Regions from separate parts of the Homo sapiens genome. Here region 2 is reported to be linked to region 1. Evidence: microRNA targets listed by miRTarBase, many of them from high-throughput screens and not tested one by one. Region 1 holds a microRNA gene; the other region holds the end of a gene's coding sequence.

Region 1 (3,411 bases):
TGCAGGCGTGAGCCACTGCACCTGGTCAATCCCATGGCTTTTTAAGTTTTTTCTTGAGGCAGAGTCTTGCTCTGTCTCCCAGGCTGAGTACAGTGGCATGATCACAGCTCACTGCAGCCTCAAACTCCCGGGCTCAAGTGATTCTCCCACCTCAGCCTCCCAAGTAGCTAGGACGACAGGTGTGTGCCACCACACCCGGCTATTATTATTATTTGTAGAGTCAGGGTTGCTGGGGCTGGTCTCGAACTCCTGGGCTCAAGCAATCCACCCACCTCAGCTTCCCAAAGTACTGGGATTACAGGCATGAGCCACCATGCCCAGCCTAACCCCCATGGTTAATCACAGGCTGCTCCAGCCCCACCAAGACTAGAGGGCAGTGTCTTTCCAGCAGTTAGTCAAGGAAACAGTGCCCAGACTCGAAATGCATGGCAGAGATTTGGAGGGTGGGTGATGAGTGTCTGTGGGTGGTTAGGGAGGAGGGAACTCTGGCTGTCAGGGTCACCACTGCCCAGCCTTGGCAAGTCTTTCTGGAAGGCCGGTCAACATAAGAACTGCTTCCTGGGTGGCTCTGAGATTTACTTCATGGGCTCTGGATGAAAGCCTGTGCTTTGCTACTGATTTGTCTGAGAGCCTTGAGCAAGTCACTGTACCTCCCAGAACTGCAGTTTTGTCATGTCTAAATGGCACGTGACCTTAGACCCCTGTCTCAGGCTGCTGGCAGGGGCAATGAGAGCATAGAAAAATCCCGGCAGAAGTCCTGGCACATAGTAGATGTTAAATAAACAGCTATTCCCTTCCCTTCCCCATGGGAAATAACAAGTCCAACCACTGGGTAAGCCCCTCACCTCCATCTCTTTCATGCTTTTTATTTCTACATCACAGTTTGAGAGGTGGTTAAAAAGAGCACAGGCTTGGAGTCAGACCTGGGTTTAAATTCTGGTTTTGCTTATTTATTAGCTGTGTGATCTTGCGGTCCGTGTGATCTTGAGGTCCGTACTTAACTTCTCTGTTCCCCCTGCCCCAGCCCCCAACAACCTAGAAAAGTAGGAAAAATCATCTCTACCCTGCAAGGTTGTTGTGAGGATGACACAAAGCAAACTCATCAGACACACAGTGTGTGGCATGTAGTAGGTGCTCATTAAACACTTGATCTCCTCCTTTAACCACCTTATTTAGTTCCTTTGACTAGGAAAGGTTTATTCCTGGGTCAGAGATACCTACCTGTGGCAGCTGGGAAAATACGTTCTGAAACATTTTTCTCCCGTGTAGGGCTCATAACCTTGGCCAGCAGAGGCCTCTTGAAAACCCTGGGGTTGCTTCCCCTTGGTGTCCAAGGACAGAAGCCTATTTTTAAACTATGCCAGCAGGCGTCCTAAATGCGCCTTGTGCCATCCCCTGAATGGTCCCCACTCATCTCTCCAGCCTAGCCCTTCCTTTGATCTAAAAAGAGCCCAAGGAAATGGCAGTTACCGTCAGGAGGATGGCAGGAAGCAACAGCTCCCGATACTCTGGCCCCGAGACGCCGGCTTCCAGCCTGCTGGAGTTCCGCAGATGGCATGCTGGCTGAGGTTTTCAGCAGATTCCTCTCCACCAGGAAAGGGAATTGCCAAATGGGAGAATCGTCTATTCTGCCTCTTCCTTTGAACATGAGGATTACACTGGAGTTTCACTGGGCCTCTGCTATGTAGTGGGTACATGTCTTGGTTTATTGGGTTTAATCTTCAGGAAAACTCTGCAGAGTGGGTTTTACCACCTTGATTTCCCAGATGAGGAAACTGAGGGTCTGAGAGGACCAGGCTCATGCCCTTTCTTCCACCCCACCCCTTCTTCAAGGCAGCTGCCATAACTTTTGGGTTGGCGGGGCGTGGGGAATGGTTCATGGACCTTGTTAGAAGCAATAAAATCTATAGAGGCTTCCCCGCCAGAAACATACCCAGACTCCATGCACAATCTGATATTCAACTTCAGGGTTTCCCCCCAGAAACATACCCAGACTCCATGCACAATCTGATATTCAACTTCAGGGGCTTCCTGGACCTGGACCTTTATAACATGCGTCCTTGGACTGTAGACCTTGAGTGAGAAATCTCTGGTTCAAATGACATTTGCCCCAGTCCAAAATGTAAACCAGCACTGTTGGCAGTAGGAAGCAACATGGTGCTCATGTGTGTTGGGGTGAGGGGGGCAGGCTGTGCTCTAGAGAGAGGAAAAGGCAAGGCTGGTATTTAGCAAGGCTTCCCGCCATATCCAGAGGGGCCAAGATATCAGTCACCTTTGCCAACAAAGTTCCATTTTCCATTGGTGGGTTTAAAAGTGGGCTGGAAAAAAACATAACCAGGCTGGGCACGGTGGCTCACGCCTGTAATCTCGGCACTTTGTAAGGCCGAGGTGGACAGATCACCTGAGGTCAGGAGTTCGAGACCAACATGGTGAAACCCTGCCTTTGCTAAAAATACAAACATTAGTCGGGTGTAGTGGCGGGCATCTGTAATCCCAGCTACTTGGAGGCTGAGGCAGGAGAATCACTTGAACCCAGGAGGCGGAGGTTGCAGTGTGCTGAGATCGCACCACTGCACTCCAGCCTGGGCGACAGAGGGAGACTACATCTCAAAAAAAATAAAGAGAAAAGAAAAAACATAACCAACCCTTCCTCACCTCTGCCAAATGGGGCAGTGACAGGCACTCAGGAGACAGACACCAGCTTACTGGACTTTGTTCCCTTTTTCAGAGGCCTGGTTGGCCAGCATCCCCAAGGGAAAAGGGCCAGCCCGCGCTGGTAACTGCCACTCTGCTCCCTTTGCTTTGCAAACAAAACCCCGTCAACAGCTGCAAGGACATCCCAGAGAGGCCAGAGGTCGCAATGCTGCTTGTGGGGAGAAAAGCTCACTCCATCCAGGCCTAAGTGGCAGACCTCTCAGCTTGAGTGGGCTCTGATGCGAGAGTTCCCAGGGGGTGAGGTCATCCCGACGCCCCCTCAAAGCATGCTCAGCCAGGGCTGGGATTCCCAAGCTGACTCCGACCCTCTGCCGGGCCCCCTGACTGTGGTCTCTTCTTGATAAAGGGACCCAGGAAACTCCAACTTCAGAGGCGCCGGCTCCCAGGGCTAGGGCCCCACTGCAGTGAGAGGTGGGGGGAATGTGCCCTCATTCCTTCTCGAGTACATCACTTCCTCCTTCATCTGACATTTACAGAGCATCTGCTCTGGGCCAGGGCCCGCGCTGGCTGCCGGGTACATGCACTGACAAGTCACACACTGTCCCCGCCCCCTCGAGCTGAGACCAGCTGCAAGGATGGACATAAGCAGACCCCATGACTGCACAGGGTGGTGGCCAGGGAGGGCTGGGGCAGTGGCGACAGCTTCTCAGGGGAGCTGCTTTGCAGACTGAGGAAGCAGGGCTGGGAGGATGACAA
Region 2 (3,411 bases), not on the chromosome of region 1:
AGATGTCACACCGGGGAGAAGCCATACCAGTGCAAGACCTGCGGACGGTGCTTTTCGGTGCAAGGAAACTTACAGAAACATGAACGCATCCACCTGGGCTTGAAGGAGTTCGTCTGTCAGTATTGCAACAAGGCATTCACCTTGAATGAGACCCTCAAAATCCATGAAAGAATCCATACTGGAGAAAAGCGTTACCACTGTCAGTTCTGCTTTCAGAGATTTTTGTATCTCTCCACCAAAAGGAATCACGAGCAGAGGCATATTCGGGAGCATAATGGGAAGGGCTATGCCTGCTTCCAGTGCCCCAAAATTTGCAAAACAGCTGCTGCCCTTGGAATGCACCAAAAGAAACACTTATTCAAAAGCCCAAGTCAGCAGGAGAAAATAGGTGACGTGTGCCACGAAAACTCAAATCCCTTGGAGAATCAACATTTCATTGGTTCAGAAGACAATGACCAAAAGGATAACATACAAACCGGTGTGGAAAATGTTGTCCTTTGAGTGGCAAGAATTAGAAAAATCTTCAAAAATATAGTTGGTGGTTTTTTTAGTTATGATTTAAGTTTAGTTTCATTTTGTCCATGTGACAGTCATGAAGGAGTGAAATTAAAAAAAAAAAAAACTCATTTGTGAAAATTCCAGAAAAAGGATCCTAATATCTACTTTGGGTTTTAGCATTAACTTTATGCAAAGTGCACAAAAACAAAATAGCTGACTCCTCCAATATCCCAAGTTTCTTGTGAAAGTTAATAAAATTCTTAGCTGTGGTATTTCTACCAGTGAAAAAAGGAGTTTAATTTTAGCCTAGTTTAAAACTTTCTAATAATTGCTAATAAGAACTGGCTGCTGAACTGTCTTTAGTCACTGGAGAAAATAAGGGTCAGATATCCTGAAGATGGCATCTTCGTAAATATGTTACGTGGTAATAAGCTGTGTGACGGTCTTTATTCCCATCTGGCTTCTGCACTATTAAAATTTGTTTAAATTAATGGATACACATGAAATACTTAAACAATATAACTGAAATTATGTGCATAATGAGTAACCTAAAGTAGGACATTCATACATTATGTAGAACTACTTTTCTGCAACACAAACCTTGTAAAATACATATATAAATCACTATAACTTTTAACTGTCCATATCCCCTGTAGAGAATTATGAGGAGCAATAGATCTGCAAATAATGAGGACTGATGTAAAAATCAATAGAAAGCATTTTGAATATGATTTAAGAGCATGTGAATGCTTTTAGATGGAATGCTGTTCCCTTGAAGTTATGGCTGAGCTGTTCTTAGAACTGGTCTACTCAATTCACAGAAAACATAGGTCATGCCTTATCTATGGGGGAACACCCTCCCAGAATTTACCTGTGATTACCTGTGCTGCATATTACTTTGCAATGGCCTCATCTCAGAGAATGAAAGAGGGTCACATTGTTCTGAAACTCTCTGCAGTCTTCCAACCACCACAAGGCCATGGATGTGGGGGTCTATTCCAGACAGACTTAAGGGCTCAAGTGGAACCTGCCATCTCCCATTCCACTGAAGGACTGTCCAAGAGATTTAGTGCAAGGTACACTGCAGTAGTGAATTCCCAGGCACTTGAAAGTGACTGCCTAATCCCTACAATTACTAGCCTTGTTGGAGATTATGCAGCCCACAAGTACAGACTAGTATAAAGCAAAAGGACAAAGGAACCCCCACCCTCCACCCCACCCATTAATGACTTGAGTGGGCAAGAAGAAGTGATGGCCTTCCTTGCCTAAAACAGTAGCTTTGTTTTTAGGGGGTGGGAAGGTAGGATGTGGAGTGACATGGTTCTATCCTTTACTTATGAGACTCAGAAATATATCTACAAAGCCAGATGCTCTGTCTTCATATTTGCAGACATCTAGACCCCTTGCTAAAAACCCACTGAAGTTTTTTTTTTATGTTCTTTGACCCACACCATCAACACTACCCTCAAATCTAATTGCCCTACAGCATATTCTATCATGTGGACTAGGTTCCTGGAAAGCCGGAACTCATGATTCTTTTTCAAACTGCCAGAATAGAAGGGAGAGAGAAAACATTTCTACCCTTTGATCACCAGTGTGAACAGAATCCGGAATGCAGTTTCAGCGTGACCTGCAGTCATTCATGTTCATTGGATTTGACAGATGGAAACCCAAGGTTATCGAAGATTGGAAGGTTATCATTGTGAAGAAGTAGCTCAAAGGACTCCGGTTTCTGTCTACAAGTGTGATGTCTCCATGAAGAAGACTTAGTATGGATTTGGGTGGGTAAGAAAGCATTTAAACGCCCAGGAAAGGACATGATTAAAGTTGACCTTTTAATACTGTAGTACCTTGCTGTTAAGTAACCCCACTATTGTATCTGCATTTATCTTTTGTTCATCTACTTTCACTTACATACAGTATTATATAAGTAGAGAAAAATGGGAAAATGCAAGCAAATTCAACTTTATTTTATACATTGTATATATGTACACCCTACACTATTCATTTGGGTTTTATTAAAGAGATAGTCACAAAGGGCTTACGAAAATCATTTTTGAATTGATAATTAGAATATTGAATAAGCAATCCTATGATCCACTAATTTGTTTTATCAGTTAATAATATTAATCAAAGACATTTACTGTATATTCTAGTCATTTTGATTTGAGTTAACCCCAAATATAAAATTACCTGTAGTGATGTCTCTCTCCCAGCCCTTATATGTGGATATTTTTTAAGTGGACTTGTATGCTGATAATTCTAGACCAAAGTAAATATGGCAGAATATTTATACATGAAAAAATAATTTTGCAAATATTTTCTATAATTGTATTCATTTAAAATGTTGATAGCTTGTGTTAGTTTCAGGGAGGGGTGTATATTTTGATAAAAAAATACTTGACTTTGTAATTCTGTATATTCTATACAATTTATAGCAGAGCCGTTTTAAGACAGCCTTGTCACATTTTTTTGTTAATTGTGAAAATTTTATTGAGTGATGTTTAAGTATGCATTGAGTACATGACCAACTAGAATTAAAGTAAGTGTAAACAGTGAACATACTGTATGCTGTACAAGATATAATGTAACTTGCTGTTTTAGCATCTGTATTTTGGTTAGAAGATATTATTAAATGCAGATGTTAAGGATTGGAAAAGTCTAATTTTATTTTTAGAAATAATGGATATAAATTTGTTTTTGCTTGATTAAAATAGCTTATTCCTACATTAAGTCTCTTTTTAAATGTTTTCATGTTATTTCTTTTGTGCAGCTATTTCATCTGTGTGAGTCACAGCTTTGTTTCCACGTATTATTCAGTTTATTTCTGTTTCCTTACTTGTTTACATTCCGTGGTACCTACTTACATGCTTAGGAGTCAAATGGATTATGACATTAGGAAAAAAGCAGAAT

What was found. Region 1 holds the annotated microRNA hsa-miR-5003-3p (UACUUUUCUAGGUUGUUGGGG, at 1,026-1,046, opposite strand). A microRNA usually pairs through its seed, bases 2 to 8, with sites in the 3' UTR of a target mRNA and lowers its output. Matches are read on the target gene's strand: a 7mer-m8 pairs with bases 2 to 8, a 7mer-A1 pairs with bases 2 to 7 and ends in A, and an 8mer does both.
Region 2: miRTarBase lists ZBTB38 as a target of hsa-miR-5003-3p. Seed matches in the 3' UTR shown: 7mer-m8 at 3,153-3,159.

Annotation. Positions count from the first base shown.
Region 1 is chr5:172,659,857-172,663,267 of GRCh38, reverse strand. MIR5003 (microRNA 5003) reads right to left here and starts at 1,103; the gene lies at 1,005-1,103. All of the region lies in intron 1 of NEURL1B (neuralized E3 ubiquitin protein ligase 1B), which reads right to left. RefSeq lists an enhancer at 3,074-3,163.
Region 2 is chr3:141,445,476-141,448,886 of GRCh38, forward strand. ZBTB38 (zinc finger and BTB domain containing 38) reads left to right here. Exons shown (of 6, transcript NM_001376113.1): 6 at 1-3,411. The coding sequence ends at 501. It overlaps LOC124906291 (a long non-coding RNA gene), which reads right to left. Exons shown (of 2, transcript XR_007096120.1): 2 at 3,164-3,411. Among named protein-coding and RNA genes, the nearest start is that of RASA2, 40 kb to the right of the region's middle.